Homo sapiens: one gene and its partners. The protein of the gene in region 1 purifies or fractionates together with the protein of each later gene. This does not show direct contact. Each region holds a gene or a part of one and is shown in the gene's direction. Other genes may lie near its edges. The genes, in order: MEF2A, PTPN5 and SETX.

Region 1 (3,652 bases):
CACACTTTTCTCCTTCCGTTATATTTGGGATCTCTCAGTAGAAATGTAATGTTATTAAGGTTTACATTGAAGTGCCAATTTATGCTTACTTGGTGACAGTGATATATTTTGTAATGTCTAAATATGACAACACTACTTGATTATCAGGTTTATCCTCTTAAATTTGTCTTTATGAATATTTGAAATATAGAATATAGACATTAGTATATATTAATGTATAAAGTTGAAATTGAAAAGGCTCATGTCAGTCATATTCATGTTCAAACATAATTCTAAAGAAAATAGCTTTAATCTGTAAATTGGTTAAGAACCTATCCCTATCCTCTACTTTTAGTAACTTGAGTTACCTTGCCAAATTAAAGTTCAAAAGTTACTTTGTAGATGAATACGAAACCAACAGTTTTTTCCTTCTTTTTCTTTATTTACAGCCTGGTCTGCCACCTCAGAACTTTTCAATGTCTGTCACAGTTCCAGTGACCAGCCCCAATGCTTTGTCCTACACTAACCCAGGGAGTTCACTGGTGTCCCCATCTTTGGCAGCCAGCTCAACGTTAACAGATTCAAGCATGCTCTCTCCACCTCAAACCACATTACATAGAAATGTGTCTCCTGGAGCTCCTCAGAGACCACCAAGTACTGGCAATGCAGGTATGTAGTGATACCTATTATGCTGGTTCTTTAATAAAGAGGGTGAAAAAATTCATTGCTAACATAAGCAGTTTCTTATTTTGCTATTCTTTTATTGCTTTGATGAGCAAGAATCACTGATACATAATTGGCCTCATTTTAAAGTATTTTTTTGAAAATCAATTGTGGGTGTAGCATTGTGTCATGCAAAGTAGAACAGTACTGAGAACCTGCCATTTATATGCTTTCCTTCTCATGGGAAAGCCATACTTTGACAGGCAGAAAATTTAGTTAGATATCAGAAGCAAGGATTTAAAGTAGAGTGTGAGCCATTCATGTTAGAAATATGGGTGATAGACTACCTGATTGGAGTTAGAGTATCTTTTACATCTCCTCCTGCCTGAATTACTTCATTAATTCAGCAAAATTTATGTTACATTTATTGTATTAGTCTATGAAATGCAGTGTCTCCTCTCTCTTAAGTCCTAGATTTAATTTAGTGATTTAATCATACTCCTTACACACTGCCCCCGTTTTTATCAGTATGTACTATTTTGGTATTGATGCAATACCACTATTTGGTATTGAAGGCGACATCAAGCTTGAAAGGTAAACTCATATATATGAGATATAATAACTACATCAGATTACATGTTAATGCCAACTTCAGACTGAGCTAGTTTTTATTTTTGTGTCTTTTTAGGATTAGAGTGAGAGTTATCTCTATTCAGTTCACGTTCAGTTAGGTAAAGAGAGCTAATTCATATTCATTCTCTGCCCTCTGTCTTCTCTCCGTAACGTTGTTAGGTGGGATGTTGAGCACTACAGACCTCACAGTGCCAAATGGAGCTGGAAGCAGTCCAGTGGGTGAGTGAATTCCTACTCTTCTGTTTTGTAGGTATCTATCCTATATGAGATCAAAGGAATGTTGTTCCTGAAATAAAGCTTTCTGGGAAATTTCCTTCTGAAGGGTACTTTCACTAATACATCAAGATAATTTCTTAAGGGGAGACTTTCTCTAACTTCCCTGCTTACCAAAGTTAGACTGTTACCAAACTACTCTATCTTACAACAGCATGAAATGTTTTCAGAGAGACTAGAATGAAAAGAAATGGTGGGTCTATCTACTTCTACAGATAGAAAGATAATTAACATATTTGTCTTGGCCGGGCGTCGTGGCTCACACCTGTAATCCCAGCACTTTGGGAGGACGAGGTGGGCAGATTGCCTGAGCTGAAGAGTTTGTGACCAGCCTGGGCAACACTGTGAAACCCTGTCTCTACTAAAATACAAAAAAATTTAGCTGGGCGTGGCAGTGTGCACCTGTAGTCCCAGCTATTCGGGAGGCCGAGGGAGGAGAATTGCTTGAATCCGGGAGGCGGTGGTTGCAGTGAGCTGAGATCGCATCACTGCACTCCAGCCTGGGCGATAGAGTGAGACTCCTTCTCAAAAAAAAAAAAATTATGGAGATGATTGAATGACTTAATAAAAATGATGAGGAAGAAATAAACAAACATCAATAAAGATATTATTAAGACAAGTTACAAAATATTTAATGACAAAGTAGGAATAAATGCCTAATTATATCTGCCACAGTATTAAATATTTTAATGGAATTAAACAGATAAGACCTATTGTGGAGTCTTACTTAACAGAAAACAATTAAATGTGGGAAAATACATAAAGGTTGTACCAGTTAAACACTAGGGCTGCTACTCTTGTATGTGTATTTCCAAATATTTATGGTTTTTTTTCAGCTCTTGTTTTAGTTGTTTGTATGCCTACATACTGTTTTTGTGTCCCTTTTTTTTTTTATTCCCCCAACAGAATAATAAGTTCAGGGCCCACCAAGAATTGTGAGAGCCTAATATGCTTCTCTCACATTGGGTTGACACCCCAAAAGGCTGGACTCTAGAAGTAAAGTAAACCAGAGATAAACAGTTCTTCTCAGTAGTGACATCTTACAGATGCATCATACAGTTTTGTTTTTTTTTTTTTGAGACGGAGTCTCGCTCTTGTCGCCCAGGCTGGAGTGCAGTGGCGCCATCTCCGCTCACTGCAAACTTCACCTCCCGGGTTCACGCCATTCTGCCTCAGCCTCCCGAGTAGCTGGGACTACAGGTGCCCGCCACCACGCCGGGCTAATTTTTTTGTATTTTTAGTAGAGACGGAGTTTCACCGTGTTAGCCAGGATGGTCTCAATCTCCCGACCTGGTGATCTGCCTGCCTTGACCTCCCAAAAGTTTGTTAAAATTAGATCGTAGTGATTAGAAATTAGATTTAGGGGTTCCAGAATGCCCGGAAAAGCAAATAGTCTCTGGAAGAATAAAATAAGCCTGGCCCACATGGCAAAACCCCATCTCTACTAAAAATACAAAAATTAGCCGGACGTGGTGGCAAGTGCCTGTAATCCCAGCTACTCAGGAGGCTGAGGCAGGAGCATCACTTGATCCCAGGAGGCGGAGGTTGCAGTGAGCCGAGATCATGCCACTGCACTCCAGCCTGTGCGACAAGAGCAAAACGCTGTCTCAAAAATAAATAAATAAATAAATAAATAAAATAAAACACCATCTCAGACCTTATTATTTCTAACTTGGCACATAAGCTGAACTAGGCACACACACAAATAAAGCAAATGAAAACTTGCAGAAATAAACAAACAATGGAATCAGCCTCCTGGGAACTCCAGAATTTGGAGTTACTAGGCACAGACTTTGACTTTAATATAACAGTGTTTACTGTGTTCAAGGGTATTTAAAAAACAAAAAGATTGAGAATTTTAGCAGAGAACTGAAATTTATTTAAAAAATGGAAATTTTAGAACAAAAAAACCCCGTAATGTTAAGAACTTAACAGATGGGCTTAAAAACAGATTGGACAAAGCAAATACAAGAATTAAGAAACTAAAAGATAAGATAGAAGAAAATTATCCAGAATTTTGGAGACACAAAGGGATGGAAAATTAAAAAGAAGACCCAGAGCATGCAATAAAAAGGACTAGCATACGTTAAATTGAAGTCCCAGG
Region 2 (3,652 bases), on another chromosome or scaffold:
AACCCACGGTAAGTAAGCTTTGGGGAGTCCTAGGGTAGCAGGGATCTGTTGGGGGCCTCTAGTCCCACCCTCCCCAACCTCCAGATTGGGCTTCTCTGAGTTCAGAAGATACTTCCAAGCCCCTGAAGTTCTTCTGCCTGCTCCCCATCCCAGACCTGGGACGTGATTTTCAGAATCTTGGTTTTGTCATCATTGCAAGAGCTGAGAACTCTGCCCCCACCACCACCCTGACCTGTTTATCTGATGTTCCCCAGGCCTGGCTTGACTCTGGGACGTGGGGAGTCCCCAGTCTGCTGCTGGTCTTTCTGTCCGTGGGCCTGGTCCTCGTTACCACCCTGGTAAGGCGCCTCCTGACCCCAACCTCAAGGCTGTCCTCCTCTGACCTTGAGGCCTGGATTTCTACCAGCTCCCATCTGACTTATAGGCTGGACATTCTGGGTGGGGCAAGGAGGGATACCTATCTCTTTGCACAAGTGTGCCAGCCTGGGGCAAGAGCCTCCTTCTTTCCGAAAATTGGTTTGCAGTGATCTGGGCTAAGGAAAGGGGATGAGACAGGGAGAAGACTGGTGTAGGAACTCCCAAGCCCCACTGAGAAGGCCTGAAGCCACAAGAAACAGAGAGCTGGGAGAGGGAGGGGCAGGGAAGGAGAGTGGGCATGGAGCCTCCCATCGAGGCCAGGGGCAGTGCCTTGTGGACAACTCCCAGGAGAGCAGAGCTGCTCTAGACACACTGAGGGAGTGGGGGGGCGTCAATCCCATGGGCACTCCAGGAACACGGGGGGCAGCCAGCGTGGTCCGAAATCTGTGATGCTGTACACCCCAACCAGGTGTGGCACCTCCTGAGGACACCCCCAGAGCCACCCACCCCACTGCCCCCTGAGGACAGGCGCCAGTCAGTGAGCCGCCAGCCCTCCTTCACCTACTCAGAGTGGATGGAGGAGAAGATCGAGGATGACTTCCTGGACCTCGACCCGGTGCCCGAGACTCCTGTGTTTGATTGTGTGATGGACATCAAGCCTGAGGCTGACCCCACCTCACTCACCGTCAAGTCCATGGGTCTGCAGGAGAGGTGGGAGGGGTGGAGGAGGGGTGGGCTCCACGGGCCCTTGAGCTCTTAGCTCCTGATCAGAAGAGTGGATGCCTGACTCTGACTCCTGGTGCCCAGGGCAGAGCTGGCCTTATAGCTTAGCCAGTGTAGACATGTGCTATCCAGGTCATTCATAGAGATCAAAGTGCCCCAAGATGAATGCTGAGAAATACTGTTACTGCACACGCACACATAGGTGTACACATGTTCACACACACTCTCCCATGCTCAAGTAAGTTTGGGTGGTTTTCTTTGCTGCAGGACTTGTCAGGGCCTTTAACATGCTTATGTTCATTGTAAATCAGCAAGGGGGCAGTATGTGGCATTTCCCAAAGTCACTTGACCACGGAACTCTATTTTTTTGTTTTACTTTTATTTTGGATTGAGGGGGTGCATGTGCAGTGTTGTTACCTGAGCATATTGCATAATGCCGAGGTTTGGGGTACAAATGATCCCATCACCCAGGTACTGAGCGTAGTGCCCAGCAGTTAGTTTTTCATCCCTTGCCCGCCTCTCTCCCTCCCTCCTCTAGTAGTCCCCAGTTTCTATTGTTGCCATCTTTATGTACCTGGGTACCCAATTAGAACCTGTTTTTATAGGGTAGCTCATAGTGTTCCACAGAGCACACTTTGAGAAGTGTAGACACCCTCGTTTCAGAGTCTAGGTGGGTGAGCCAGATCACACCAAATTTGAGTTACCCATGTGATGTCACAGAAAGAACACTGGGTGTGGAGTCAGGAAACCTAGCTTTTTATTTCAGCTCTGCCACCCCCTTACTGGGAGAGCCTGGACAACTCTTGGCCCTTCATGGGGACTCAGTTTCTCTTTCTATGTAATGAAGCCCCATCCTGTCCTGTGTCTGAGACTCTGAGTATAGTAGAGTTTGCCCATTGTAGACATCCTTGCGGCCACCGTGCTGCTCCTGGGACTCCCTCCTTCCTGACAGCGGGGGTCCTGGCCTCTCCTGGACAATATGTCCTTGACTCACCAGCAGCCTCATCCCAGGGCTGTTGGGCCCGGGACTGCAGTGGGGAGGGTCTGGAGCCATCCTCTCGGGCCCAAGCCCCGCTTCTGTGCTTCAGGCAGGTGTCCCCTCTCTGAGCTTCCTGGGGACCACAGGGTAGAACTTCCTCCAACGGTGATGGAGGAGAGTCCAGGGTAAGGCCATGTTGGGGTAGCTTTGGATGGAACTTTTAGAACTGGAGCCCCAAATCCCCACTAAGTTAACATCTCCACTGCAGGAGGCAGGAGATAGGGAGTCAGGCCAATGCCTCAGGGCTGAGATTCACGCTTCTTTGTCAGGGGGTCTTGTCACACTCCCACTCCTCTTCCTCAACCCCACCCTGTTCCCAGCTGATCTCTCCCTCCCTCATTTTCCCAGCCCTGGAGACCCCAGCTCATGCCCGTCCCTCTGCCCCTGAGGCTCACACTCCCTTTCCTGGTCCTTCCAGGAGGGGTTCCAATGTCTCCCTGACCCTGGACATGTGCACTCCGGGCTGCAACGAGGAGGGCTTTGGCTATCTCATGTCCCCACGTGAGGAGTCCGCCCGCGAGTACCTGCTCAGCGCCTCCCGTGTCCTCCAAGCAGAAGAGCTTCATGAAAAGGCCCTGGACCCTTTCCTGCTGCAGGCGGAATTCTTTGTGAGTTCCCTTGAGCCGGTCGCCCCACTGTGTGCAGACCCATGTCAATCATCCACCTGCCCAGGTGGTGGAGCGTGGTGCCTGGAACTCAGCATCTGCAGTAGATTAGTATCACTTTATTATCAGCTCTCCCACCATCTTGGGCAAGCTGCTTTCCCTCTGAGCTTCAGTTTCCTCATCTGGAAAATGGGGATGAAAATAATAGAATTGTTGCAAAGATTAAAGAGACTTATAACATGTGCAGAGCACCCAGCCAGGTGATGGAGGTACAGTGACAATGCTAAGTCTTTATTGCCCAGTGCTGTGCTCTGAAAGCCACAGAGAACCTTCACTTCTAACTCTTCTGTTTTCCCACTTTCCTCCTGCCGAGCATTGTTCTTCTGCCTTTGAAATCTCTCTAGTGGCCTCCCCTCGTTACCACCCCTGGGGCCCTAGCTTAGGTCCTAATCACCTCCACCCTGGCTTCTGCAGCAGCCTCCAGCTGCCTCCTATTGGACTTTGAGGGGCTCAATAAATGGCACCCCTGTTTACCTGCCTGAGTGCTCAGCCAGTTAAGAGCTAAGGCATAGGAGATTACAATATCACCTTTGTTGTCAATAAAATACAGGTTGGAAATGTGGCTTAGCAGGGTACAGCAAGAGTGAGCCTCCCGATACTGAGACCCAGAATTACATGCACTTTCCACCCTCCACAGGGGTGCCGGCACATCTCGGACCTTGCCGCATGGGGGCACCCCTATAATTCTTTCCTGGCAGGAGGGCCCTGAGAGGAGGAGGAAGGAAGGGGCTGAGGCTCCAAAGCTCCATTCCTCAACCAAATTCACCAAACAGGTAACTCCTCACTTCTGTGAGCAGGAAAAGGCAAGAGGCCAAGAGTATCTGGGGTGAGTTCCTCCTGGTAGAAGCCACAGGGGTACAGAAGCAGG
Region 3 (3,652 bases), on another chromosome or scaffold:
GTCAGAAATAATAAGAAACTTCTGACTAGTCAAGAACTTCAGATGCAAAGGCAGATCAGACCCAAATCACAAAAAAATAGACGAAGACTTTCTGATTGTGAAAGTACAGATGTTAAAAGAGCAGGGTCACATACAGCACAGAATTCTGACATATTTGTACCAGAATCTGATAGGTCAGATTATAATTGTACAGGAGGAACTGAGGTACTTGCCAACAGTAACAGAAAACAGTTAATAAAATGCATGCCTTCTGAACCAGAAACCATAAAAGCAAAACATGGGTCTCCAGCAACTGATGATGCTTGCCCTTTGAACCAGTGTGATTCTGTAGTGTTAAATGGAACAGTACCAACAAATGAAGTAATTGTCTCCACTTCAGAAGACCCTCTGGGTGGAGGTGATCCAACAGCACGTCATATAGAGATGGCAGCTTTGAAAGAAGGAGAGCCTGACTCCAGCAGTGATGCAGAGGAAGATAACTTATTTTTAACCCAAAATGATCCTGAAGATATGGATTTATGTTCACAAATGGAGAATGACAATTATAAACTCATTGAACTAATTCATGGAAAAGATACAGTTGAGGTTGAAGAAGATTCTGTAAGTCGGCCTCAGTTGGAATCTTTGAGTGGCACAAAGTGTAAGTACAAAGATTGTCTTGAAACCACAAAAAACCAGGGTGAATACTGCCCAAAACACTCTGAAGTGAAAGCAGCAGATGAAGATGTATTTCGTAAACCTGGCTTGCCTCCTCCTGCATCTAAACCTTTGAGACCTACCACTAAGATTTTTAGCTCAAAGAGTACTTCACGAATTGCTGGTCTTTCTAAATCTTTGGAAACTTCTTCAGCACTTTCACCGTCTCTAAAAAATAAGTCAAAGGGGATACAGTCGATTTTGAAAGTACCACAGCCAGTTCCCCTCATAGCTCAGAAGCCAGTTGGTGAAATGAAGAATTCGTGCAATGTTCTTCATCCTCAGTCTCCGAATAATTCCAACAGGCAAGGTTGCAAAGTTCCATTTGGTGAAAGCAAATATTTTCCATCTTCCTCTCCAGTAAACATTCTTTTGTCATCACAGTCTGTCTCTGACACCTTCGTTAAAGAGGTCTTAAAATGGAAATATGAAATGTTTTTGAACTTTGGTCAGTGTGGGCCCCCTGCAAGTCTTTGTCAGTCCATCTCAAGACCTGTGCCTGTCAGATTTCACAATTATGGAGATTATTTTAATGTTTTTTTCCCTTTGATGGTATTGAATACTTTTGAAACAGTAAGTATGTGTTTCATTTGTATGCCTCTCCAAACTTTTCAAGTTACCTCTTTACCTTGCTGAGTGAAAATGAGAGTATAGTTCAAAAAATCAGCCAGGCGTGGTTGCGGGCACCTGTAATCCCAGCTACTCGGGAGGCTGAGGCAGAGAATTGCTTAAACCCAGGAGGCGGAGGTTGCAGTGAGCCGAGGTCGCGCCACTGCACTCCAACCTGGGCGGCAGAGTGAGACTCTGTCTCAAAAGAAAAAACAAAAAAAAGTATAGTTAAATTAAAATTGACCGTTTCGATTTAGATACTGGTTTTAGATTTCATGTTGAACAGACATTTGTGCCAGCCACTGTTTTAGATACTGGCAATACAGAGGAAACACTTTTTTTTTTTTTTTTTTTTAGGTGGAGTTTTGCTCTTGCTGCCCAGGCTGGAGTGCAATGGTGCGATCTTTGCTCACTGCAACCTTCTGCCTCCCAGGTTCAAGTGATTCTCCTGCCTCAGCCTCCCAAGTAGCTGAGATTACAGGCCTGCGCCACCAGGCCTCACTAATTTTGTATTTTTAGTAGAGAAGGGGTTTCACCATGTTGGTCAGGCTGGTCTTGAACTTCTGATTCTGACCTCAGGTGATCCACCAGCCTCGGCCTCCCAAAGTGCTGGGATTACGGGCATGAGCCACTGTGCCTGGCTGGAAACTCTGCTCCTTGGAGCTGATAGACACAACTCAGGGTGCTAATATACCAAGTGCAGAGGTAACACAGAAGGAAATGTTTATTGACGCACGGGTAAAGGAAGACTTCTCAGAGGAGATAGTTTCCCATGTGCATTTGTTTTGTTTTTAAGTAAGAGACCTCTGCTGTAGTTTTCTTGAGGAGGTGGCAAAGGGTGAATTACATTGAACACAAAGTAATGAATCCTAAATTTCCCTACACGTCAGACTTCCCAGTTTCTTTCTTTCTTTTTTCTTTTTTCTTTTTTTTGAGACGAGTCTCGCTCTGTCGCCCAGGCTGGAGTGCAGTGGTGCAATCTCGGCTCACTGCAAGCTCTGCCTCCCGGGTTCAGGCTGTTCTCCTGCCTCAGCCTCCCGAGTAGCTGAGACTATAGGCTCTCGCCACCACGGCCGGCTAATTTTTTGTATTTTTAGTAGAGATGGGGTTTCACCATGTTAGCCAGGATGGTCTCAATCTCCTGACCTTGTGATCTGCCCGCCTTGGCCTCCCAAAGTGCTGGGATTACAGGCGTGAGCCACTGCGTCTGGCCGCCAGTTTCTTACTCATCACAGCAGCTGCTCTGTGTAACAGCCTCCCCAACCCCAGCACATCCTATTCTGGTTCTTCTCTCCTCCTTACTCAAGTAGAGTTGACAAACGATAAGATTCCCGTTAAAATTTGAGAAAAACATCAAATAATTCTTTAGTGTAAGCATTCAACTGCGTTTAGAAGGATTTTTGTGTGTGTGTTTTCAAGGCAGGTAAGAAGTGGGAGCAAATTTTTAGTTAATCCTCAAAAGAAACTTTCGTGTATACAGTAATACTCTTAAAACCAACAATGTTGAGGTAAATAGTCATGGTTCATTAGCTTGATAGATATTTGAGTGCCTAGTATGTGCCAAGTGCTCTTACAAGCATGGGAGATAAAGTGGTGAACAAGACAGGTGTGAGGTCTCTGCTCTCTGGAAGTGACCATTTGGGATTGAGATAAGGACTCTAGTATGATCTAGAACAAAGGGGACAGGGCACTTTCTGGAGAGATCAGATAACCTCTATGAGCAGATGATATTTACACTGAGACCCAAGTGACTAGGAGTTAACTGTGGGAAGTATGTTACAGGCAGAGTGGAGTGCAAAGACAGTCTGGTAACAAGATTGGAGTGTTGGGGAAGGAAGTGTAATGTACAAAGGGACAAGTCTACTACAAAAGAAGAGAAGTGAGTTGTTAACACTGTACATGGCAAGATAAATGGCTTTTATAAAGCTTGAGTGAACGTATCTTCATCAATGTACTTTATGTTAAATCTTTTGATCAATTCGTACCTCAAATTTTAGCCATTTTTGAGAGTTGCTTTATTATTTTTTTTTCCTAAGGTACTTTTGTTTTAGCAGGAGTTGCTTTATTTTCGCTGGAAAGCACTAAATTGCTTAGAAGCCATTCATAACCCTATGAAGGGTAGACACTTACTTTCATTTCCTGAGTTAAAAGATATTTATTAAGATTTATTTCCTTCAGGACATTTTTGTAGTCTCAGCTTTTTAAAAACAGAATGAGCACAAGTTCCATTTGTACATATACAGAGTTTAAAATAGTCAAAGATTTCTATCTGGCCCATTATAAAGAACATCAGGCACCCCTCATCCCCTCAAGTAACTATTTTCTATTCTTAATGAGTCCTTTGGAA

Evidence for each region.
Region 2: the proteins of MEF2A (region 1) and PTPN5 purify together in Homo sapiens (affinity purification with mass spectrometry; one large-scale study listed by BioGRID and IntAct). This does not show direct contact.
Region 3: the proteins of MEF2A (region 1) and SETX purify together in Homo sapiens (affinity purification with mass spectrometry; one large-scale study listed by BioGRID and IntAct). This does not show direct contact.

Annotation. Positions count from the first base shown.
Region 1 is NC_000015.10:99,673,965-99,677,616, forward strand, and holds part of MEF2A (myocyte-specific enhancer factor 2A), read left to right. Parts: intron 1-428; coding exon 429-648; intron 649-1,434; coding exon 1,435-1,494; intron 1,495-3,652. UniProt on the Homo sapiens protein: Transcriptional activator which binds specifically to the MEF2 element, 5'-YTA[AT](4)TAR-3', found in numerous muscle-specific genes. Also involved in the activation of numerous growth factor- and stress-induced genes.
Region 2 is NC_000011.10:18,739,678-18,743,329, reverse strand, and holds part of PTPN5 (tyrosine-protein phosphatase non-receptor type 5), read left to right. Parts: coding exon 1-8; intron 9-254; coding exon 255-338; intron 339-826; coding exon 827-1,068; intron 1,069-1,442; exon of another isoform or gene 1,443-2,537; coding exon 2,538-2,727; exon of another isoform or gene 2,728-2,906; intron 2,907-3,652. UniProt on the Homo sapiens protein: May regulate the activity of several effector molecules involved in synaptic plasticity and neuronal cell survival, including MAPKs, Src family kinases and NMDA receptors.
Region 3 is NC_000009.12:132,323,941-132,327,592, reverse strand, and holds part of SETX (probable helicase senataxin), read left to right. Parts: coding exon 1-1,269; intron 1,270-3,652. UniProt on the Homo sapiens protein: Probable RNA/DNA helicase involved in diverse aspects of RNA metabolism and genomic integrity.